Linked DNA regions of Homo sapiens. The protein of the gene in region 6 purifies or fractionates together with the protein of the main gene of each other region. This does not show direct contact. Each region holds a gene or a part of one and is shown on either strand. Other genes may lie near its edges. The genes, in order: SLC27A2, RDH11, RAP1B, UBAC2, LEMD3, ADIPOR2 and POR.

Region 1 (2,690 bases), on a different chromosome or scaffold from region 6:
AATTTTGTATTTTTTTAGTAGAGATGGGGTTTCACCATCTTGGCTAGGCTGGTCTTGAACTCCTGATCTCGTGACCCACCTGCCTCGGCCTCCCAAAGTGCTAGAATTATAGGCGTGAGCCACTGAGCCCGGCCTGAACACCTTTTGTGTACAGAACTCTGATGCCATAGAATTAGGCTCCTGTAAGGACTATAGATGGCATTATTACCTGTTGGATAATGCTACCTATACACAGTGGACAGGATGCCTCCGGGTAGGGAAAGTTGGCCTCCTCACATTGGAGTAGATTTCCATTGTGTTGGCCACTGCTGATCTAGCCGCCTCACCCTACCATCCCTCACCCCACCCCCCGTTCCCAGCCATTTTTACCTAGAACGTCTTTACTCTTACGAATGGGACACCTATGAAAAGTTACCAGTGAGGACTTCAGGCTTTGGAGTAATTGACACAGGCTTTGTATTTAGAGTAAAGTGAGGAAAGAACACAGAGACAGTGCCATCTCACATGTTGGTGTTCATTTAATTTACTAAGTATTTTAAAAAATAATGCCTTCCCTCCAACAAGCTCAGTTTGCAAATACAAACAGTAGGTGCACACTGAAAAATAATAATCTCTAAATCTTTTTACTTGCAAAGACTCAACTGTTATTTAAAAAAGTCTCCCTTTACGGGTATGCAAATTTCCTACAAAATTTCCTCACAATCTTCAATCAAATTAAAGTTGGATTATATCAAGTGGCTGTCCATTCAGTTTCTTTCTGGAAATGTTGAGTTATCCTCCTGGGAATATTCAGAGTTTCAGGGTTTTAGCACTTATGGCATTATAGATGTCCTCAGTCATAGGCACATACATTTTTGCTGTGTCATCCAAGAAATACAAGGCATCTTTGATGACAGCAGGGTTAAAGCCCTCCTCCACCAGGGTCATTTTGCGGTGTTTAAAAGTTCCAGTGATCTCAATGGTGTCCTGAAAAACATCAAATAATCCACATTTTGGTTGCATTTTGCAATAGATTAGGATGCAGAGCAAGGGGTAGGGGTGGGGCATGGGGATCTAGCAAATCATTAGCATCCCTGGCTCATGTGAGAGCTGGGAAGTGAAAGTTAAAATAAAGTTTTCCATTTTAATTTATTTTTAAATGGACAGATAACATTGTGTGTTTTTCTCATGTACAATATGATGTGCTGAAGTACATATACATCGTGGAATAGTTTGGCTAGTTAGCAAATGGATTACTTCATATAGATATCATTTTTGTGGTAGGGGCAAGTAACATCCACTCTTTACATTTTCTAGCGAAGTGAAAGTTTTATATGATACCCATACATTCTGTTTGCAGGATCTCCATTAGGGAGCCCTTTGTGAGGTATTTTTTATTCCCTTAAAGCTTTAGGATCACCTGTGGGGAGGGAGGACCTGCCAAGGATGAGATACCTGTGCATAGATTTCTGAGCAGAGGGGTGGTGCCTATTTCTTGGTAAGGCTTCAGGTACCGCTAGGATATCCTGATTCATGGTGGGATTAGAAGGAGGGATCATTTACAGACAACTCTGTTTTCTCAGTCTGCTTGTCTATTAGATTAGATTGAAGACTGATTTTTCCTTCAATTATGTGTTAATCAAAATATCTGAGGATATTTCATTTTCATGCCACTTTACCATCTGGTTGCAAAGCAAATGTTGGTGCCCTATGAACATCAACAGGAATAATCCTATACACACAATATCTGGAATCTTAAGACCTCCTTTGTCAAGTCTTCAGCTACAGAATCACAGAGCTCAAAGTCTAAAAGTGAGAGTATTAAACCAACCAAAGGGTTAATGTTGGAGGAAGAAAAAAAATCCTCCTAGCGGTGATAGTTAAGTCTTAGGCAATTCCAGCTGGCTAATGTCCAATTAAATTTCACACCACAGAAAGGTGTAGAACTTCTGTGGATTTCTGTGTTCTTTAAAACTGGAAACAACAAACAGGGTCAGAGCATTTCTATTTGCGCTATCTGTCAGGACTCACCAAACAGACTTTGTGAGTTATGTGCTAAGTCTCTTGCTGAATGAACTGGCCTGTCATTGTAAGGAGAAAGGGATTAGGATTGGATTTCTTCTAGCTGTTTTCTGATATATTTTTTTTTAGACTGGGCCTTGCTCTGATGCCCAGGCTGGAGTACAGTGGTGCAATCATACCTCACTGCAGCCTTGATTTGCCAGGCTCAACTAATCCTCCTGCCTCAGCCTCCCACGTAGATGAGACTACAAGTGCACATCACCATGCCTGGCTAATTTTTTTTTTTTTTTTTTTTTTGGAGATGGAGTCTCACTCCATTGCTCAGGCTGGAGTGCAGTGGCGTGATCCCAGCTCACTGCAACCTCCTCCTCCTAGGTTCAAGCGATTCTCCTGTCCCAGCCTCCCGAGTAGCTGGGGCTACAGGCATGCACTACCACGCCCAGCTAATTTTGTCTATTTAGTAGAGACCGGGTTTCACCATGTTAGCCAGGCTGATCTCGAACCCCCGACCTCAGGTGATCCACCTGCCTCTGTCTCCCAAAGTGTTAGGATTATAGGCGTGAGCCACCGCGTTTGGCCTTTTTTAAAAATTTTCATTTTTAGTAGACATGAAGTCTCACTACGTTGCCTAGGCTGGTCTCAAACTCCTGAGCTCAAGCAATCTTCCCACCTCGGCCTCCCAAAGTGCT
Region 2 (3,500 bases), on a different chromosome or scaffold from region 6:
GCACCCCTGTAGTCCCAGCTACTTGGGAGGCTGAGGCAGGAGAATCGCTTGAACCTGGAAGGCAGTGGCAGAAGGAAGATCATGCCACTGCACTCCAGCCTGGGCAACACAGCAAGCCTGTCTCAAAAAAATGAAGGGGATGGGGTGGGTGTGGTGGCTCATGCCTGTAATCCTAATACTTTGGGAGGCCAAGGTGGGAAGATTGTTTGATGCCAGGAGTTCAAGACCAGCCTGGTCAACATAGGGAGACCCCATCTCTAAAAAAGAAGGGGGTGGTCAACGATGTTAAGTGCTGCTGAGAGGATGAGTCTTGGCTCTGCTGATTCCTGACTTGAGTTTCCAGTCAGAAATACACAGAGGTCCTTAGCACTGTCTACTCTAGAGCCTTCTTAGATCTGTGAGATGGAAGTATAAATTACTGTGAGCAGTACTTCTGATGTCACCATGGGCAAAAGAGTCCATATGTGAAGGTCACATGCTTATTTACATCCTTTTCTGTTTTGGGCTATTCTGCAAAATCAAGTCCTGTCTTACCCTCTCTTCATGCCACCCCCAACCAGGCTCTGGCGTTACGACGTATTCTGTACACCCTGGCACAGTCCAATCTGAACTGGTTCGGCACTCATCTTTCATGAGATGGATGTGGTGGCTTTTCTCCTTTTTCATCAAGACTCCTCAGCAGGGAGCCCAGACCAGCCTGCACTGTGCCTTAACAGAAGGTCTTGAGATTCTAAGTGGGAATCATTTCAGGTATGAATGTTATCTCTTTTTGCAGATGAGATTTATTGCTCAAAGGAGATAATTTGGGTTTGTCTGGGTATACCCTTTTTTAAAAGTACATTGTCTCATATAGCTTTTGTCTTTTAACTCTAGAGTTTTTACCTTTTAGTAGGGGAATTTGACTCTCTTTTGTAATAACTGCTACATTTGATTTTATGCCATCTTTTATACTGATAATTATGCATTCTGTTTGTTTTCTTCCTGTCTTTGTTATGTCAGTCCAGTTTTCTTTATTCTTTTTTGGATTCCTAATTCTATTGTTTTACATTAAAAAGAATTTAAAAAGAATTTGAGGCCAGGCGCAGTGGCTTACGCCTGTAATCTCAGCACTTTGGGAGGCCAAGGTGGGCAGATCACCTAAGGTCAGGTGAAACTCCGCCTCAAAAAAAAAAAAAAAGAATTTGAATCTGCATTTCTCTATTGTCCTCAGGATTGAAATACTATGGACTCCCCTCTCAAATAAGCGAAGACATTTAAAATGATTTAAATGTAGAGAATTTTGAATATAACACAGGGTTAGATAAAATAGTGCACTGAGCCTGCATATAATGGAGCCTCAGCTACCATTAACCCATGGCCAATTCTGCCCTATCCCCATTCTCTACCCCTTTCCATATTTTTCTTCTCCCATATTATTTTGAAGCAAATCCCAGGCATCACATAAGATCAAAATTTTAACATGTTTTTACCTCTACTTCAGGTTATTGTTGAAATGACCTGAAATTTTAAGGAAGTAGCTGAAAATAGCATTAAGATTGGAAAGAAAGGCAGACAGATTATGAGAGGCCTATAATGCCAGCCTTGTGGAGGAGCCCCAGAGTTGTTTCAGTAGACAGACAAAATCTGGTCTGTGCTTTAGCAACTTTGTTTCATGAATGAATAATTAACCTAGTGAGAGAGAGAGTTTCAGAAAGTTGTAATGAAAGGAATGGTAATGTGAAAGAGGCCCTGAAGCAGCAGAATTTTTATCACTGGATGATTAATTAAATGAGGGGATGAGGGAGGCTTTGCTAACCTGAATTTCAAGCCTGAATGAGGTTGATGATGACATTAACTAAGACAGCAGACATGGAAAAGTAATGTGTGGAACTTAGGGTTCTTGGATTCCAAAGCAGTTGAAAGGGACTTTGTCTAGCTTAAGCAAGAAGGAAATTTATTAAAATATTAGTAGGGAGAGGAGGGACCCCTAGGTTGAAAGGGAAGACTGAAGAGCCAGGCTAAGAAGTGTCAGAGTGGCAGTCAGCCAGCCGGGGCATTGCTGCTAGAGTGAGCGAATGCCAGCTATCTTTAGTGTTTAGGTTGTATTGCTTATCATCCATTCTCTAGGGAGGAAGCATTGGATCTCCTTCCTCCTATCCCTTCATTTTTACTCTTTTGATTAGAGGCAAACAGGGACTTTATTAATGCTCTCTTCAAACTATATTGAGGGGAAAAGGTGATTCTGCAGAAGGAAATCAGGTTGCTATTGCCGAAACAAAGTAGAATGTTCAGCCAAAGAGTAACAGTTGTCCACTGTGTAACAAACCTGGCTCTGTACATGTTGCATGTGTGTTATCTATAAGGCATGCAAGTAGAAATGTATAGCAGATAGTTGGAAATGTGGTTCTGAAGTATAAGAAGATAGATTTATATAGTATACTGGATTGATTTTCCAAGAGTGACTGGATTCTTCTTCCCTAGAGATTTTAAGAAAAAAAAAAATAACCCTTTATCTTGGTTTTGACTGAGTGGTTTAAAGAAAGTCAGCTCTAAATCCATAACTTACTATTGGATTGACTTTTGAAGAGCCTTTCCTGTGCTATGGATTCTTAATTCATTTTGAAGATCCAACAGCAGCCGTGTAGACCACCATCAAGAAATGAACATAAAAGTCTTTTGATTGAAGCCTTAAGATTTTTGCACTGGCTCTTCTTTCTGCCTGCAACCACTAGTCTGCTTTATGTCTCTAAGAATTTGCCTTTACTGGACATTTCATATAAATGGAATCATATGGTATGTGGCCTTTTGTGACTGACTTCTTTTACTCAGCTTAATGTTATCAAGGGTCATCCATGCTAAAGCATGTGTCAGTACTTCATTTCTTTTTATTGCTGGATAACATTTCATTGTATAGATTTGCCACATCTTATTTATTCATTCATCAGGTGATGGGCATTTGGGTTTGCACTTTTTAGCTATTTGAATAATACTGCTGTGACCATTTGTGTAGAAATTTTTGTGTGGACATTTCTCTTGGGTACATGGAAGTGGAATTTCTGGGTTATATGGTAACTGTGTTTAACTGCTGAGGAACTGCCAAACTTTTCCAAAATGACTGCCCCATTTTACATTCCCACCAGCAGTCTATGAGTATTCTAATTTCTTCACATCCTCAGCAACACTTGTTATTGTCTCTCCTTTTGAGTTTAGCCATCCTAGTGAGTATGAAGGAATATCTTGTTTTTATTTTCATTTCATTTTCCTACTAATGATGTTGAACATTCTTTCATGCGCTTTTTGGTTCATTTGTTTCTTTGTTGGGGAAATGTCTATCAAGTCCTTTGCCCATTTTTAAGTTGGATAATTGTCTTTTTATTGTTGAGTTACAAGAGTTCTTAATAGTCTAGATGCGAGTTCCTTGTCAGATATATAATTTGCAAATATTCTCTCATTCTGTGGGTTGTCTTTTAACTTTCTTAATGGTATCTTTTGAAATGTAAAACTTAAATTTTGATGAAGTC
Region 3 (3,500 bases), about 67 Mb from region 6:
ACGGAAGGCTCCCAAAATAGAATTTTTAGTTTCTCATAGTCTTGTATTAAAAAAGTCAATCAAGGCCAGGCACAGTGGCTCACGCCTGTAATCCCAGCACTTTGGGAGGCCGAGGCGGGTGGATCACCTGAGGTCAGGAGTTGGAGACCAGCCTGGCCAACATGGCGAAACCCTGTTTCTACTAAAAACACAAAAATTAGCTGGGTATGGTGACACACGCCTGTAATTCCAGCTACTTGGGAGGCTGACACAGGAGAATTGCTTGAACTTGGGAGGCAGAGGTTGCAGTGAGCTGAGATCGTGCCATTGCACTCCAGCCTGGGCGACAGGGTGAGACTCCGTCTCAAAAAAAAAAAAAAAAAAGCCAATCAAAATTTACTAAAAATCAAGCCACTTATTAAATGGATTTACAAATTAAAAAATGTTCCCTGAGGTTGCTGTAATTATGTAGGGTCCCCCCAAATTCCCTTGTTTCAGAAGTCCAGAAAATAAAAGCATTTACCATGGGTGTCTCCCAGCTCTCACAATATTTGCTAAAATTAAACTGCAGTACAATGAGTCTTATTTATGTATTTATTTTGAGACAGGGTCTCACTATGTCACCCTAGATGGAGTGCAGTGATGTGATCTCAGCTCACTGCCAACCTCCACCTCCCAGGCTTAAGTGATCCTCCCACCTCAGCCTCCCAAATAGCTGAGACCACAGGCACGCGCCACCATGCTGGCTAATTTTTTTTTTTTTAAATTTCTGGTAAAGGCAGGGTTTTGCTATGTTGCCCAGGGAGGTCTTGAACTCCTGAGCTCAGGGGATCTACCCGCCTTGGCCTCCCAAAGTGCTGGGATTAGAGGTGTGAGCCACCATGCCCAGCCTGGTTCTTACAGTATGCAGATCAGCAAAACCAACACCACTTCGAAACTTGTTAGAAATGCAAATTCCTGGGTCCTACTGCTGACCTACTGAATCAGAAGCTCTGAGATCTCAGCCCAGCAATCTGTTTTAACTGGTCCTACAGGTGATTCTGATGCAAAATCAATTTTGAGAACCACTGCTATATTTAGTGTGATGAGGAATTAAACTCCATTATGGTAGACTCTGAAGGGGCACCTAAATTAATAATGTTAGAATCTAATGTATTTCTTGCCTTTAAAATCCCAGCACTTTGGGAGGCTGAGGCAGGCGGATCACAAGGTCAGGAGATCGAGACCATCCTGGCTAACATGGTGAAACCCTGTCTCTACTAAAAATACAAAAAACTAGCTGGGCATGGTGGCAGGCGCCTGTAGTCCCAGCTACCCGGGAGGCTGAGGCAGGAGAATGGCGTGAACCCGGGAGGTACAGCTATCGCACCACAGCACTTCAGCCTGGGCAACAGTGCAAGACTCCATCTCAAAGGAAAAAAAAAAAAGGAAGGGTGTAACATTTAATTTTCACAGGATAATGGCAAAGGAGGAAATTTCTCACTTTCCACATGATATATATTTGAAAACATGTATGGGTATTTTTGCCTTTCAAGGAAAAAGTTTAAAAAAACCAACACCCCCCCCCCAACCAAAATACACAAGCTTTAAAATGAATTTAAATTTAGACTTAAACAATTATAATCAGGGTTTTGAAATAAAATATATTTATTTGGAAGTCAGCTTACATCATCAGTGTCTTTAACTCGAAGAATCTGTTCTCTCAGGTCTTGTAAATCGTTAAATGTGGACTGTGCTGTGATGGAATAAACTAATGCAAATCCTTGTCCATTTTTCATGTATAAATCCCTCATTGCTGTAAATTGCTCCTACAATAGAAAGAAAGGAACGTTAAAAAACAATAATGTTTTGACAGTTATTTTTACAATTTTCACAGTCTATAATTATAGCTCAATGAAGAATACTGTAGTATTATGTAACTTTGTTAAAATTATAATCTATGACAAGATACTATTTGAAAAAATTGGCATTTTAGTTTCTTTTTTTTTTTGAGACGGAGTCTTGCTCTGTCACCACGCTGGAGTGCAGTGGCGCGACCTCGGCTCACTGCAACCTCTGCCTCCCGGGCTCAAGTGATTCCCCTGCCTCAGCCTCCCGAGTAGCTGGGACAACAGGCGCACACCACCATGCCCGGCTAATTTTTTTCTTGTATTTCGGTAGAGACGGGCTTTCACCATGTTAGCCAGGATGATCTCCATCTCCTGACCTTGTGATCTGCCCGTCTCGGCCTCCCAAAGTGCTGGGATTACAGGCGTGAACTACCACGCCCAGCTGGAAATAGGTTTCCTATTTAAAAACAATACACCAAAGTCGATTTATATACAAAAAATATACTCAAGTGGAACAGAAATATCCTGTCCCCAAAAGTTACTAAAGGCAGCTTTTAAAATACATCATCATGTATAAAGCACCCCAACTGTATCTGCCAAGTTAATCTATTAGCTATGACTCAAATGCTGTAGTTCTGTAGGGCTCCATCAGCATGATCTAGACCATCCCATTTTCCCACACTACTTTTTCTTTGCTAGACTGTGAGCATTTGAAGGTAACAACACAGTGCCTGACATGTATCAGGTATTCAAACATTAGCTGAATGAATACCATACACCGAGAACAAATCTTCCCTTCATCTTCACATACCTACAAATTTAGTTTGTCTATAAATACGTTGAAGGAGAACAGATACCAATCAAAATATTTCTTTTTCTTTTGAAATGGAGTCTCACTCTGTCACCCAAGCTGGAGTGCAGTGGTGTGTTATCAGCTCACTGCAACCTCTACCTCCAGGGTTCAAGCGATTCTCCTGCCTCAGCCTCCCGAGTAGCTGGGACTACAGGTGCCTGCCACTGCACCTGGCTAATTTTTGTATTTTAATAGAGACGGGTTTCACCATGTTAGCCAGGCTGGTCTTGAACTCCTGACCTCAGGTGATCCACCCCCCTTTGACCTCCCAAAGTGCTGGGATTACAAGGCATGAGCCATCATACCCAGCTCAATCAAAATATTTCACACAGCTGCTGATGAATGAATGTATGCCTGTATTATTTGAAATATGGTAATATATTGTTTTAAAAGTACTAGTGAGACTGAAAATTTTTCTTCTAACACATTTTCTAAACTTTTCAATAACTGACCCACTGCAATTACAAAAAGTGCAATATACTTCCTCCGCCTCCCGGGTTCAAGCTATTCTCCTGCCTCAGCCTCCCAAGTAACTGGGATTACAGGTGTGTAACACCACGCCCGGCTAATTTTTTTTATATTTTTAGTAGATACGGGGTTTCACTGTGTTGCCCAGGCTGGCCTTGAACTCCTCACCTTAAGTGATCCACCCACCTTGGCCTCCCAAAGTGCTGGGATTACAGGCGTGAGCCACTGCGCCCGGCCAATATAAAATTAAGGATTCAACGGAACAACAACAAAAAGATTTAAAGTTTAGCAACTAGTAGTCTTATGTTTTTTTTTGACACAGAGTCTCGCTCTGTCACCCAGGCTGGAATGCAGTGGCACAATCTCCACAG
Region 4 (3,500 bases), on a different chromosome or scaffold from region 6:
GGTATTTTGTTTGTTTTTTGAGGCGGAGTCTCACTCTGTCACCCAGGCTGAAGTGCAGTGGAGCGATCTCCGCTCACTGCAACCTCTGCCTCCCGGGTTCAAGTGATTCTTCTGCCTCAGCCTCCTGAGCAGCTGGGACTACGTGCCACCACGCCCAACTAATTTTTGTATTTCTAGTAGAGATGGGGTTTCACCATATTGACCAGGCTGGTCTTGAACTCCTGACCTCGTGATCCGCCCACCTCGGCCTCCCAAAGGTGGCATGAGCCACCGCGCCCGGCCTGTTTTTTTGTTTGTTTGTTTGAGATGGAGTCTCGTTCTGTCAACTCTACTCCTAGATTCTAGTTATTTCACACACTAATACATGGTTTTTGTTTTTTTTAAAGAAGATCAACGCAATATGAAAGCATACAAATTCTGAGTGGGGTTGGCCACGGCAGGTTGTCTACAAAGTTATAACCTATACACCGGCTTTGTTTTATGTTTGATGGAAGTGTTTAAACATTATCAGCTTTTAAAAAATTATTCTTCAGAAGCTTAACTTCGTACAAATTAATTTTGTTTCCTAATCTAATTAAACTATATTTTTGTGTTTAGTTCATAAAATTACAAAGACAAATTTCACTATAAAAACACACAAAACTAATTCTATCAGGATCAGAATAGGAAATTCACTTAAAATTCTCTAAAACACAAACTTTCAAAGCTAAAAAAAGAAGGTGCCTGGGCAAGGTGGCTCACACAGTGGCTCAAGCACTTTGGGAGGCCGAGGCGGGTGGATCACCTGAGGTCAGGAGTTCAAGACCAGCCTGGCCAACATGGTGAAACCCTGTCTCTACTAAAAAATACAAAAATTAGCCAGGCATGGTGGCACGTGCCTGTAGTCCCAGCTACTTGGGAGGCTGAGGCAGGAGAATCGCTTGAACCCGGGAGGCGGAGGTTGTAGTGAGCCGAGATCGTGCCAATGCACTCCAGCCTGGGTGACAGAGCGAGACTCCGTCTCAAAAAAAAAAAAAGTAAAATAAATTTTAAAGAAAGAATATAAAATTGATTCTATTTCAAGAACATAATAAAAATGTAGGCATAGATTAGACTTTTTACATATAAAATCAATTTAACTATATCTAGAAGTTTAAAATATTATTTTACTGACTTTCACATAATAATAATAACACTTTAAATCAGATTCAAGTAGTTCTAAATTAAGTCAATCTTTAAGTGCTACTTACAATCCAGAAGGCAAATTACTAGCTGCAGTGATGCCAAAGAAATACTGCATAGCTTCAATGAGGAGAAAGTCAAATAAGGCTGACAAAACCCAGGAACCCAGCAAAAAGGACTACAAAATAAAACAGCAGAAAAATGATAGAGATGAGTCTCCTAAAAATAAACTAACATTTATTCAGCTAGAATCAGCTCAGAGGTGTGTATTCATATGTATGTGTGTGTGTGTATATACACACATGCATATGTGTGTATATATATTTGAAATTATTTGTTTTTATTAAAATAGACTTTAGAAAATGGGCGGGGTAAACCCATATTGCTCAAATGTATTAACAGCCATAATTTTTAAGTATGTTGAAGATATATTTTTAACAAGTAAAACACAAACCACTAAGCAAAATAAATTATAATTTTATTAAAGTCAAAGTATTAAAATTTGTATTAGTGTTCACAACTAATACTACATATTATCATTATCACTATTATTATTATGCTAATGTCTTACATTTTAAAATTTTCTTTGGTTAATGTCCATGTGCCTCAAATCAGATACAGAATAGTGTAATTAAAAAGATAACTGTAAATAACAACACCAAGTTTAACAAAATAAAATCCATTTAAACAAAATTTTTTTCTACAGCCTAAGTAGCAAAGACAAAATACATAAAAACTTACTGCAAATTTTCTGCTTCCATATCTTCTTTCAAATATCCTAAAATTATAAATAAGCAGACTACTGCAGAAAGTATCTTTCAAATCAAGGCAAATTATTCTTCCACATATCAACCTCCAAATCTAGATGGGGATTTAAAAAAGAACAATAAACAAGAGTAAAATTTGTTCGGGTCTCTTCCTTAGCAAATTTGTTATGTTTACACTGCCTATTTTTAATGTCCTAAACAAAATCATAATGCACACACCAAAGGAAAACTATATATGTATGTTCTCTGAGCTCAAGTCTCTCATAGTAAAAATTCCTCCCAACAGTGGCACGAAAGGTACTTGAATTTTTTTGTGCTTATAAGAAAACATATTCTCATTAAGATAACAGAAAACTGCCTATAAGAAATTTCAGGATCACGTTTAGTAAGATTTTTTAAAATTATATACGTAAACTAGAATGAAAGGCTAACAAATGTTCATTTTTATGTTATTGAATAAGACAAAGTTGTAACTGAAAAACAACTTAGGTATAAACTCAAAAATATGCATTTCTGAGCTTAATTTTAATCATCAACTTACTTCATAGCAACTATGCAAAGTAATTTATGGCAACTGCTGCTAAATATGACTAGGTTTGAAATATTAGTTTATTTAAATCATTGTTTCACCCAACTTCTGGCTGCATAAAAAACATATAAGGGGACATACAAAAAAAAAAAAAAAAAAAAAAGAGCTACTCAAAGGCCTATTTTTGAGTCTGCTTAAACATTTTTCAGATTTTTAAAGATAATCCCAATGACATCTCAAACATCCTAATCTTATTTCCCCTTCACAATGACCTTATGAGATAGGTAAAACAAATATTAATTCCAACTTTTCTTTGTATTTTTATTGTGGTAAAACAGATATAAAAGTTAAAATTTTGCTGGCTGCCCAGTCTGGAAAGTGAGGAGCGTCTCTGCCCGGCCGCCATCCCATCTAGGAAGTGAGGAGCGCCTCTTCCCGGCCGCCATCCCATCTAGGAAGTGAGGAGCGTCTCTACCCGGCCGCCCATCGTCTGAGATGTGGGGAGCACCTCTGCCCCGCCGCCCCGTCTGGGAGGTGAGGAGCGTCTCTGCCCGGCCGCCCCGTCTGAGAAGTGAGGAGCCCCTCCGCCCGGCAGCCACCCCGTCTGGGAAGTGAGGAGCGTCTCCGCCCGGCAGCCACCCCGTCCGGGAGAGAGGTGGGGGTCAGCCCCGGCCAGGCCAGCCGCCCCGTCGGGGAGGGAGGTGGGGGGGGTCAGCCCCCCGCCCGGCCAGCCGCCCCGTCCGGGAGGGAGGTGGGGGGGTCAGCCCCCCGCCTGGCCAGCCACCCCGTCTGGGAGGTGAGGGGCGCCTCTGCCCGGCCGCCCCTACTGGGAAGTGAGGAGCCCCTCTGCCCGGACAGCCGCCCCGTCCGGGAGGGAGGTGGGGGGGGCAGCCCCCCGCCCGGCCAGCCGCCCCGTCGGGGAGGGAGGTGGGGGGGTCAGCCCCCCGCCCGGCCAGCCGCCCCGTCTGGGAGGTGAGGGGCGCCTCTGCCCGGCCGCCCCTACTGGGAAGTGAGGAGCCCCTCTGCCCGGACAGCCGCCCCGT
Region 5 (3,500 bases), about 63 Mb from region 6:
CAAGTGACATAATCTTATACATAGAAAGCCCTAAAGATTTCACCAAAAAAATCTTGTTATTTGGCTGGGTGTGGTGGCTCATGCTTGTAATCCGTGCTTTAGGAGGCCAAGGCAGGAGGATAACTTGAGCCCAGGAGTTTGAGACCAGCCTGGGCAACATAGCAAGGCCCCTATCTCTACTAAAAAGAATCTTGTTAGAATAAACAAATTCAGCTAAGTTGGAAGATATAAAATCAATATACAAAAATCAGTTACATTTCTATACACTAACAACAATCTGAAAAGGAGGTTAAGAAAATAATCCCATTTATAATAGCATTAGAAAGATTTAGATACTTAGGAATAAACTTAACCAGGGAGGTGAAAGACTTATACACTGAAAACTACAAAAAAAAAAAAAAAAGCTGAATGAAATAAAAGACACAAATAAATAGAAAGACATCTCATGTTCGTGAATTGGAAGACTTAATATTACTCAAATTACTATACCACCGAAGGCAATACAGCAATACAAAATCCCAATAGCATTTTTTGCAGAAATAGAAGACATAATCCTAATATCCATATGGAACCACAAAGGCCTCACACTGACTTTAAAACATATGACAAAACTATAGTAATCAAAACAGTATAGTACTAGCATAATAATAGACATAAATGGACCAGTGGAACAAAATAGAGAACCAGAAATAAAGCCACTGATGTATGATCCAACAATCTTCTACAAGGGTGCCAGACTACACAATGGAGAAATGACAATCTCTTCAATAAATGGTGCTAGGAAAACTGGATTTCCACATGCAACAGAATCAAACTGGACCTTTATCTTATACCGTACACAAAAATCAACTCCAAATGGATTAAAGACTTAAATGTAAGACCTGAAACTATATAACTTCTTGAAGAAAACATAGAAGAAAAGCTTCTTGACGTTGATATGGGCAATAATTTCTTGGACATGACACCAAAAGCATAGGCAACAAAAGCAAAAACAGAAAAGTGGGACTACATCAAACTAAAAAGCATATGTGCAGTAAAAAAAAACAGTGAATACAGTGAAAAAGTAACCTACAGAATGGGAGAAAATATTTGCAAACCATATATCTGACAAGGGGTTAATATGCAAAATGCATAAGAAACCCCCACAATTCAATAACAAAATAAATAACCCAACTTAAAAATCAGCAAAGAACTTGAATAGCACTTCTCCAAAGAAGATATACAAATGGCCAACAGATAAGGTATTATATATATGCTGTATACATGCTATATATACACACAGATGTATATGTATATAAATGGTATATGAAAAGATGCTCAACATCAGTAATCATCAGGGAAACACAAATAAAAACACAGTGAGCTATAAGGCAAATAAGTGTTAAGGATAGGCAGAAACTGGAATCCTACTATACTATTGGAAAGAATGTAAAATGGTACAGTCAATATGAAAACAGTATGGAGGTTCCTCAAAAAATAAAAAGTTGAACTACCATATTATCTATCAATCCCACTTCTAGGTATTTGTCTAACAGAATTAAAAGTAGAGTCTCAAAGAAGTACTTGCATTGCCATGTTCATTGATGAATTATTCACAATAGCCAAGAGGTGGAAACAATCTAAAAGCCCATCAACATGACTGGATAAAGAAAATATATGTATACATACAATGAAATTCTACTCAGCCTTAAAAAATGAAGGAAGTACTGTCATGTTACAATATGGATGAAACTTGAAGATATTATGCTAGGTGAAATAAGCCAGTCACAGGACAAAAATTGCAGGATTCAACTTATATGAGGTATCTGTTAATCACACTGATGGAGGAAGAAAGTAAAATGGTGGTTGCCAGGGATATGGAGCAGAGGAAAACGGGGGCCTGCTGTGCAATGGCTATAGAGTTTCAGTCATACAAGATGAAGAAGTTCTAGAGATTTGCTGTATAAGAATGCACATATAGTTGTACGGTATACTTAAAAATATGTTAACAGATTTCACGTTATATATTTTTTACCACAATTTTAACAAGGGGATGGGAGGCATGAAATTTGTATGGCATGACTTGTCCACGTTCAAATGCCAGCCACCTTCCAGGGATCAACGTTTCCATTTGCAAGAACTCAGATCTTTATGAAATTATCTTTATGGAACTGGACCGACAACAAGCTTTCCTGTATGGTTTTCAAATGCCACTTTCCACTTCTGAGAAATCAGAATGACATTTATCCATCTTTAATCTTTTACTACCTTTCATTAAGATTTTCCAGAAATTATTTACAGTAGTTTAGAAAATTCAACAGCAAGTTCTCTTAGTATTTGGAGAAGAAACTGATGTGGGACAGAAGATTTTAAATAAATGGTTAGATATTTACCTGCTCTCTTACATGCTACTACTCACCTATCTCAATTTCCCTATGACCAATGTTTCTTTGTACCCTTTCCAAATTAATATGCATTCTCTCATAGAGAATGTTCTAAAACAAACTAAAAAAAATTGAACAGGTGGCTCACGCCTATAATCCCAGCACTTTGGGAGGCCAAGGCATGCAGATCACTTGAGGCCAGGAGTTTGAGACCAGCCTGGCCAACATAGTGAAACTCCATCTCTACTAAAAATACAAAAAACATTAGCTGGGCGAGGTGGTGGGTGCCTGTAATTCCAGCTACTCGCGAGGCTGAGGCAGGAGAATCGCTTGAACCCCGGTTGCGAACGTTGCAGTGAGTCGAGATCAGCCATTGCACTCCAGCCTGGGGAACAAGAGCGAAACTGTGTCTCACAAAAAAAAAAAAAAAAAAAAAGTTGAACAATTTTACTTTCTCATAACTGCTCATATTATACCAAACAGCAGGCCCAAGCTTTTAACAGTACAATTAAAATAATCAAACATATGATTCTTACAAGTAGCAATGATTTATATAATTTTTTAAAATATAGCTATTAAAATTCTAATTTCATTGCTTACTTTTAAATACGCAGCTGCCTCTTGAACAGAAAGCGTTCTTTGACTAGAACTGCCACATTCATGATCTCCTGGAAAGATTAGCATATTATTAATTTTGAATCAGTACTCTCTTAAACAGAAGAAAACAAACATAATTAATTCAAATATTTTATACATTATACAATTACAGGTTATATTATTATAATCAGTAAAGAAAGAACATGAACAATATTATTTATAATTTCTAGAAGAAATTCCAGTAAGAATATAAACAAAGAAATTCCAGTAAGAATATAAACAAACAACTACCATTACATTAACCACAACTTTTAAATGCATTTCAGTCCAAACAAGAACTTATCTTCCTCTTATATTCCCAACTAAACTGTAAGCTGGTATAGGAACTATGTCACACTGATGCCTATCCACAGATCTTGGCACACAAGACGCCCTCCAGAAATATGTATTATTCCTAAAAGGGAAAAAATTCAGCATATTCATTGTGCTAACTTAACTTACACATCTATTCTTAAAGCTAATCATTTAAGGGTTCAAATA
Region 6 (3,500 bases):
GGGGATTAATTTCCCCCAAAGAAAGGGGATAAAGGGCAAAAACCCCTCCATACCAATGTTAAAATGATGATGATGAATCAGAAAGATAAATTAGCTAATTTGAAGCTAGAAAGATTGCTTAAGTTCAAGATCATCTTCATTTTACAGATAGCTAAACTAAACTTTAAAGAGATGAGATCATCAGGTTAGTCTATAATAATCAGCAATAGGCTGAGGAACAGAATTACAAAGGTCAGATTTCACATTAAGCGTATTTCCAATGTTGTCTTGTTGAAAATATTTCAGGCCCTCTTTGGTTATAAGTTTTTCTATCTATATCAGTCCTTATATTTTCTTTTCCCTCTTCTCTTTCCTCCTCTCTTACCAATGACCACAATCCAGTTCAATCCAGTTCCCTCTTCTTCACAATCCCTCTTCTTCCACCAGACATACATACACTCAGTCTCCCATTACAAATCACTAAATTTCGGTATAAAAAAAGACCCTGATAGAAATCTGGTCCTAAAAAGGGCTCTGGTGAAAATCTGGTCTATCATCCTCATTTCATAAATAAGGAAACTGAGACAAAGAATGGCAAAATGACTTGCCATTGTCAAAAAGAGCACAGATTCTGATATTAAAACTAGCCTAATTCAAATTCCTGTTCTACCACTTAAATAGCCACATGGCTTGGACAAGTGGCCTCACCTCCCTAAGCCTTAGTCTCCTGCTTTGTAAAATGAAGACATTAACAAGAGTTATCATACCACATAGGGCTAATGTATGTAATGAGGTAATCCGTGCAAAGCACTCTGTACCATGCTGAGCACCAAGGAAGTGCTCACTAAATGTTAGTTATTATTGTACTTATTGTCCAGAGAAAGCTCAATAGGGAGTTAGGACCAGGATACAACTCTCCTGACTTTGTGTCTAAAACTTTTTCTATTGCATCACTCTGCAGGATGCCAATAACTCATGAGCAGATACCTACACACTCAGTCACCCCGACATACTTACCCAGATGTCACATTTGCCAGGGAAAAAGCGTTCGGGGATCCGGGCAGCATACAGGGCAGCTCCTGTGATGTAGAGGCTGGCCATCAGCATCAACCAGCCTATCTGCCCTATGGTGGCGGCCTTAAGGAACCCCTCCGAGATGACATAGTGCAAGGTAGGAATGATTCCACTCAGGCCTAGGCCCAAAAACACTCCTAGGAGTCACAAGAAGAGAGTAAAGTAATGCAGAAGAGAAACAAAGAGCCAGAAGTCAGTATTACAGCACAGCACCATTAACTCTGTAAACTGAATATTTCAAAGTAGCATATAAAATTAGCTTCCAGTTTTAAAGGAAAAAGAAGGTTCTTCAAACTCTGGGACACTGTCACACAAGACAACACAGCTATGTTCTAAAGATTTACAAATGCAAGGAGCCAGCCGGGTGCAGTGGCTCACACCTGTAATCCCAGCACTTTGGGACCAGCCTGGCTAACAGGGTGAAACCCCATTTCTACTAAACATCCAAAAAGTAGCCAGGCGTGGTAGCGCACTCCTGTAATCCCAGCTACTCGGGAGGCTGAGGCAGGAGAATCACCTGAAGCCGGGGGCAGAGGCTGCAGTGAGCCGAGATCACGCCATTGCACCCCAGCTTGGGCAACAGGAGTGAAACTCCGTCTCAAAAAAAAAAAAAAAAAGCAATGAGCCTCACTAAGAGAGGCTTAGCTTAGTAAGTCAGCAGTCTTCAAGGGTTTTGAATTAATGTTGCTAAATGTTTTCGGAAAGGACAGCTCCAGGAGTTTATTTAAACTGTCCTAGCCTGTCCTTCTACAGACACAGGTTACAATACAAGCAATTTTACGTATCCCATCTTCTCTTTGAAGCAGCAGGCGTTGTTGGGGTGGAGAGGCGATGAATGATCACATCACCTGGCATCACCTATTTTTAATAGGAATCTAAGGCTGGGCGCAGTGGCTCAGCTCACACCTGTAATCCCAGCACTTTGGGAGGCCGAGGCAGGCAGATCACTTGAGGTCAGGAGCCAAGATGGCACCACTGCACTCCAGCCTGGGCTACAAAGCAAGACTCCATCTCAAAAAAAAAAAAAAAAAAAAAAAAAAGAAAGAAAGAAAGAAAAAGAAAAGAAAAGAAAAAAGAAGAAAAAATTTAATCTAAATCTATAACCTATAACTGGGCACTTAAAAATTGTTAAATGCCTTTAACAAATGACCTAATGGGGGTGGGGGATGGGAGAGAATACTATAAGCTCCCAGACCCCTAAATAGCAATCAAGTACAAAAGTCTAGCAAATCACTCAGCCACAGCCCTACTGCCTTACTGCCTCCAGAAGCATCTAATGTTTTTTTAAACTTCTGGATATGACCTAAGTTCTAAGATCAATTAAATGAGTCTCAACCAGCATTTTTTTAAATGAACTAGAATAAAATTTAAAATATCAGACTGTAACATACGTGGAGGATTAAATACTATTTTGTTAAAGTTTTGTAATTTATATATACATGAACTTATGTATAGATACACGTGTTCAGGACTGTAATAGAAAATGTCATGATGGAAAAAAAAATGTGAAGTCCACTGATCTAAATCCACTTTGAAACCCGTGTATCAGCCAAAGCAACACAGGAGCTCCCTGCCTCTGCCAGTAACTGCTCCTACATTTTGACACAGAGTTAACAATGACCCTTGCAAAACAAGCTGTCATTTGGTAAGCTTTCTCAACAGATAAAGAACCTATTACTTGCTTTGGACATTACCAAATAAACTGCTGGTATACAGCAATATATGTAAGCACAGCTATGGGATGCATACTCACAAATAAAATGGACATCTAAAAGAGAAGAGGAAAATGGCAATGCTGCTCTCACAACAGGTAAGAACCAAGCAGACCTAAAGAAAAACTATTTCCTACCTCTGCTCCTCTAAGGAAAGATTTGCTAGACTTTTGCACTATTCACTTTTTCTTTTCCTCTACATGCTAAGCAAAGGCTGCTAATGGTTTCTGCCTATCATTCTCTAAGTCAAAGGCTCAGGAATTTGGTTCTTCTGATGTATGTAAATAACAGAATGCTCAGCTGTACTCAGCAAAGACATTCTTATCTCATGTGCTCAAGCAGGCTTAACACCACTGTACTACTCAAGTACTGTTGAAAGCTGACCCTGACCAATGCTCATTTGCTCATATGAACACAAAAAGGAGGACGGCAGAGTGTTTTAACAGTGGTCACTGACATGAGGTTACTTCTGTGTCTAACCTTCCAGGTACCCCCGGATGATCCAGGGTTTAGATTTTAATACTAAATGGTTTTGGGGGTTTAAGGACGAAAGGAAAAACACTCCTTGTTCATTCTCAGTGGGCACTGAGCTTGACACTGAGTAGGAGACAAGAACATCTCTGCTAATTCCATGTCCTACAAGAAGACTCAGCCAAGGCACTGAGGGGCTTGTGGCTTTCTCTATGATCTCCAGCTAAACAGGCATTATCCTAAATATAAAAAGCCCCTTTATCC
Region 7 (3,500 bases), on a different chromosome or scaffold from region 6:
AGGCACCCACCACTATGCTAGGCTAATTTTTTTGAATTTTTAGTAGAGACTGGGTTTCAACACGTTGGCCAGGCTGGTCTCGAACTCCTGACCTCAGGTGATCTGCCCACCTTGGCCTCCCAAAGTGCTGGGATTACGGGCGTGAGCCACCGCACCCAGCCACCTGAGGTATTTCTAATAGTTTTGGTAGCCAGACTGCAAGTTCCTAGTCCTGGCTACTGGCTTATGTGATGTTCAGAGGCAGCTGTAGAAGTAGCTTCTTATCCTGGATCACAGCTACACGTGGTGTGTCCTGAACTCAACAGTTTCAGGCTGCATTCGAACAGAGCAGCTACCTTGCAGGTTGCTTCTGTGATATCTTAGAGACCAACCTGCTCCTTCAGCCCCTCCAGTAACCTGGAAGTACCCCCTTCCCTGTGTGAAATCCCTTCCAGATTAAAATGCCTAAAGTAGTCTCTAGTTTTCACACTGAATCCCACCTCATACAAAATAAAACTTACGCGGCCGGGTGCCGTGGCTCACTTCTGTAATCCTAGTACTTTGGGAGGCCGAGGTAAGAGGATGACTTGAGCCCAGGAGTTTGAGACCAGCCTGGGCAACATGGCAAAACCCTGTCTCTACTAAAAATACAAAAAATTTATCTGGGTGTGGTGGCGCATGCCTATGGTTCTAGCTACTTGGGAGGCTGAGGTGGGAGGATCACTTGAGCCTGGGAGGTTGAGGCTGAAGTGAGCTGTGATTGAGCCACTGCACTCCAGCCTGGGTGACAGGAGTGAGACTGAGTCTCAAAACAAAACCACCACCAAAAAAAACTTAGGGATTACAATAAATGTTCTTATACTTTTTAAAGTTCCTGAATTTTCCACAAATCATTGTTAAATCATTAAAAATTGTTTTTTTTTTTCTTGAGACAGAGTTTTGCTCTTGTCGCCTAGGCTGGAGTGCAGTGGTGCGATCTCGGCTCACTGAAACCTCTGCCTCCTGGGTTCAAGCGATTTTCCTGCCTCAGCCTCCTGAATAGCTGGGATTACAGGTGTCCGTCACCATGCCTGGCTAATTTTTTGTGTTTTTAGTAGAGACAGGGTTTCACCATGTTGGTCCAGCTGGTCTCAAAGCTCCTGACCTCAGGTGATCCGCCCGTCTCAGCCTCCCAAAGTGCTGGGATTACAGACATGAGCCACTGCACCCGGCCAAAAGGATTTTTTTTTTTTTTAGATGGAATCTTGCTCTGTTGGCCAGGCTGGAGTGCAGTGGTGCGATCTTGGCTCAATGCAACCTCCGCCTCCCGGGTTCAAGTGATTCTCCTGCATCAGCCTCCCGAGTACCTGGGACTACAGGTGCATGCCACCACGCCCGGCTAATTTTTGTATTTTTAGTAGAGACAGGGTTTTCGCCCAAAAGGATATTTTAAAATAATCACCGTAAAAATACTTAATAGAAGAGAAAGTGCTCATGATTATCAGGTTAAGAGAACAAAAGATGACCTAAGATAGCAGCTAAATATTTACAGGAGCATCAAAATATATAAAATACCTAGAAATAAACTTTGTAAGAGATGTGTCAGAAGCTACTGAACTACACACAAAGGACTCACGCCAATGGAAAAGCACCCCGATTATGGACAGGGAGTCTCGACCCACAAAAATGGCAGCTCTATTTATGTCACTAGAGAAATGTGGCATGATGTAATAGAAATCTGAACCAGCTGGGTGCAGTGGCTCACACCTGTAATCCCAGTACCCTGGGAGGCCACACCAGGAGGACTGCTTAAGCCCAGGAGTTTGAGAACAGCCTGGGCAACAGAGTGAGACCCAGTCTCTACCAAAAAAAAAAAAAAAAATCTGAACAGCTTTTTTTTCCTCAACAAATTGATCCTAAAAGTCACGGAAAAATAAGTAAGAATCCATATATTAAAACATTATTTGGCAATAAAAAGGAAGTACTAACATATGCTACAGTGTGGGTGAACCTTGAACACGTTGCGCCCAGTGAAAAGAACCCAGAGACCCAGCTATTATTATTATTATTTGACACAGGGTGTAGCTGTTGCCCAGGTTTGAGTCCAGTGGTCACTGCAATCTGTGCCTCCCAAGCTCAAGCTATCCTCCCACTTCAGCCTCTCAGGTAGCGGGGACTATAGGTGCGCACCACTGTGTCCCACTAATTTTTCTATTTTTTGTGGAGATGGGGTTTCGCCATGTTGCCCAGGCTGGTCTCAAACTCCTGGGCTCAAGCGACCTGCCCATCTCGGCCTCCCAAAGTGTTGGGATTACAGGCATGAGCCACTGCGCCCAGCCCAGGAATTAAGTATATGATAAAGGTGGCATTTCAAACCAGTGGGGGAAAGATGGACTCTAATACATGGTGTTTAGACAGCTATGTAAAATGTAGAGTTGGATTCATACCTCACATCTTACATCAGGATAAATTCCCAATAGATCAGATTTTAAATTTTGAATATGAAAAACAAAACCCTAAAAGTACTAGAAAAAAAAAATACAGGAATATCTTTATCTCTTTAGCATGGGGAAGACCTTCAAATTATGACTCTAAGACCAGAAGTCACGAAAAGAAAGAATCATATAGGTGACTCTGTAACTTTTACACAGCAAAACAAATAAAAATGCGATCAGCTAGGTTGAAAGACAAACTTTTTTTTAAGAGATGGAATCTCACTAAAAGACAAACTCTTTAACGGGCAAGATATTTTCAACTTATATCACAGACAAGAGATTCATCTCCCTAATAATTTCAAGGAGAAAGATCAATCCCAACAGAAAAGCAGGCAAAAGATGTGAAGAGAGAATCTATTAAAAAAAGAAAAAAGAGGCTGGGTGCGGTGGTTCAGGCCTGTAATTCCAGAACTTTGGGAGGCCAAGTTGAGTGGATGACCTGAGGTCAGGAGTTCGAGACCAGCCTGGCCAACATGGCAAAACCCTGTCTCTACTGAAAATACAAAAGTTAGCCAGGCATGGTAGCACGCACCTGTAATCCCAGCTACTCAGGAGAATGAGGCATGAGAATTGCTTGAACCCGGGAGGTGGAGATTGCAGTGAGCTGAGATCACACCACTGCACTCCAGCCTGGGCAACAAAGCGAGACCCTGTCTCAAAAAAAAAAAAAAAAAAAAGAAAAGAAAAAAGAAAAAGAAACGAAGCCATCTAGACCTAGGTGGGTGAAAATCTACTGAATCTCATTCATAAAAATGTAAATTACAACTATACTGAGTTTTTTTTTTAAGCCTAGAAAACTGACAAAAATCTAAACTTTAATAACAAACTGTTGGCAAGGCTGTGGGGAACAGTTTTCTCACACGTCGCTATTCTTGAGCGCGTGCCACGGTGTGACTCCTACGGGGACGATTTGTAGCTTCTATCACGATTGCAAACACATCTACCTTCCAATCCAGCAATTCCACTTCTGGGACTGCTTTGTATTTGAAATGTGCAAACCGAGCTACATATTCACAGTGACATTGTTGGTAAGAGCCAAAGAGTAGC

Evidence for each region.
Region 1: the proteins of ADIPOR2 (region 6) and SLC27A2 purify together in Homo sapiens (affinity purification with mass spectrometry, with the first as the bait; one study listed by BioGRID). This does not show direct contact.
Region 2: the proteins of ADIPOR2 (region 6) and RDH11 purify together in Homo sapiens (affinity purification with mass spectrometry, with the first as the bait; one study listed by BioGRID). This does not show direct contact.
Region 3: the proteins of ADIPOR2 (region 6) and RAP1B purify together in Homo sapiens (affinity purification with mass spectrometry, with the first as the bait; one large-scale study listed by BioGRID). This does not show direct contact.
Region 4: the proteins of ADIPOR2 (region 6) and UBAC2 purify together in Homo sapiens (affinity purification with mass spectrometry, with the first as the bait; one study listed by BioGRID). This does not show direct contact.
Region 5: the proteins of ADIPOR2 (region 6) and LEMD3 purify together in Homo sapiens (affinity purification with mass spectrometry, with the first as the bait; one study listed by BioGRID). This does not show direct contact.
Region 7: the proteins of ADIPOR2 (region 6) and POR purify together in Homo sapiens (affinity purification with mass spectrometry, with the first as the bait; one study listed by BioGRID). This does not show direct contact.

What each region holds. Positions count from the first base shown.
Region 1 is NC_000015.10:50,234,196-50,236,885, reverse strand, and holds the end of SLC27A2 (long-chain fatty acid transport protein 2), read right to left. Parts: intron 967-2,690; coding exon 790-966; 3' UTR 501-789; downstream 1-500. UniProt on the Homo sapiens protein: Mediates the import of long-chain fatty acids (LCFA) into the cell by facilitating their transport across cell membranes, playing an important role in hepatic fatty acid uptake.
Region 2 is NC_000014.9:67,682,265-67,685,764, reverse strand, and holds part of RDH11 (retinol dehydrogenase 11), read left to right. Parts: intron 1-560; coding exon 561-750; intron 751-3,500. UniProt on the Homo sapiens protein: Retinol dehydrogenase with a clear preference for NADP. Displays high activity towards 9-cis, 11-cis and all-trans-retinol, and to a lesser extent on 13-cis-retinol.
Region 3 is NC_000012.12:68,652,399-68,655,898, reverse strand, and holds part of RAP1B (ras-related protein Rap-1b isoform 1 precursor), read right to left. Parts: intron 1,788-3,500; coding exon 1,647-1,787; intron 1-1,646. UniProt on the Homo sapiens protein: GTP-binding protein that possesses intrinsic GTPase activity. Contributes to the polarizing activity of KRIT1 and CDH5 in the establishment and maintenance of correct endothelial cell polarity and vascular lumen.
Region 4 is NC_000013.11:99,242,354-99,245,853, reverse strand, and holds part of UBAC2 (ubiquitin-associated domain-containing protein 2 isoform 1 precursor), read right to left. Parts: intron 2,023-3,500; coding exon 1,903-2,022; intron 1,340-1,902; coding exon 1,230-1,339; intron 1-1,229. UniProt on the Homo sapiens protein: Restricts trafficking of FAF2 from the endoplasmic reticulum to lipid droplets.
Region 5 is NC_000012.12:65,218,083-65,221,582, reverse strand, and holds part of LEMD3 (inner nuclear membrane protein Man1), read right to left. Parts: intron 3,032-3,500; coding exon 2,964-3,031; intron 1-2,963.
Region 6 is NC_000012.12:1,781,570-1,785,069, reverse strand, and holds part of ADIPOR2 (adiponectin receptor protein 2), read right to left. Parts: intron 2,059-3,500; coding exon of another isoform or gene 1,960-2,058; intron 1,191-1,959; coding exon 997-1,190; intron 1-996. UniProt on the Homo sapiens protein: Receptor for ADIPOQ, an essential hormone secreted by adipocytes that regulates glucose and lipid metabolism. Required for normal body fat and glucose homeostasis.
Region 7 is NC_000007.14:75,974,155-75,977,654, reverse strand, and holds part of POR (NADPH--cytochrome P450 reductase), read right to left. Parts: intron 1-3,500. UniProt on the Homo sapiens protein: This enzyme is required for electron transfer from NADP to cytochrome P450 in microsomes. It can also provide electron transfer to heme oxygenase and cytochrome B5.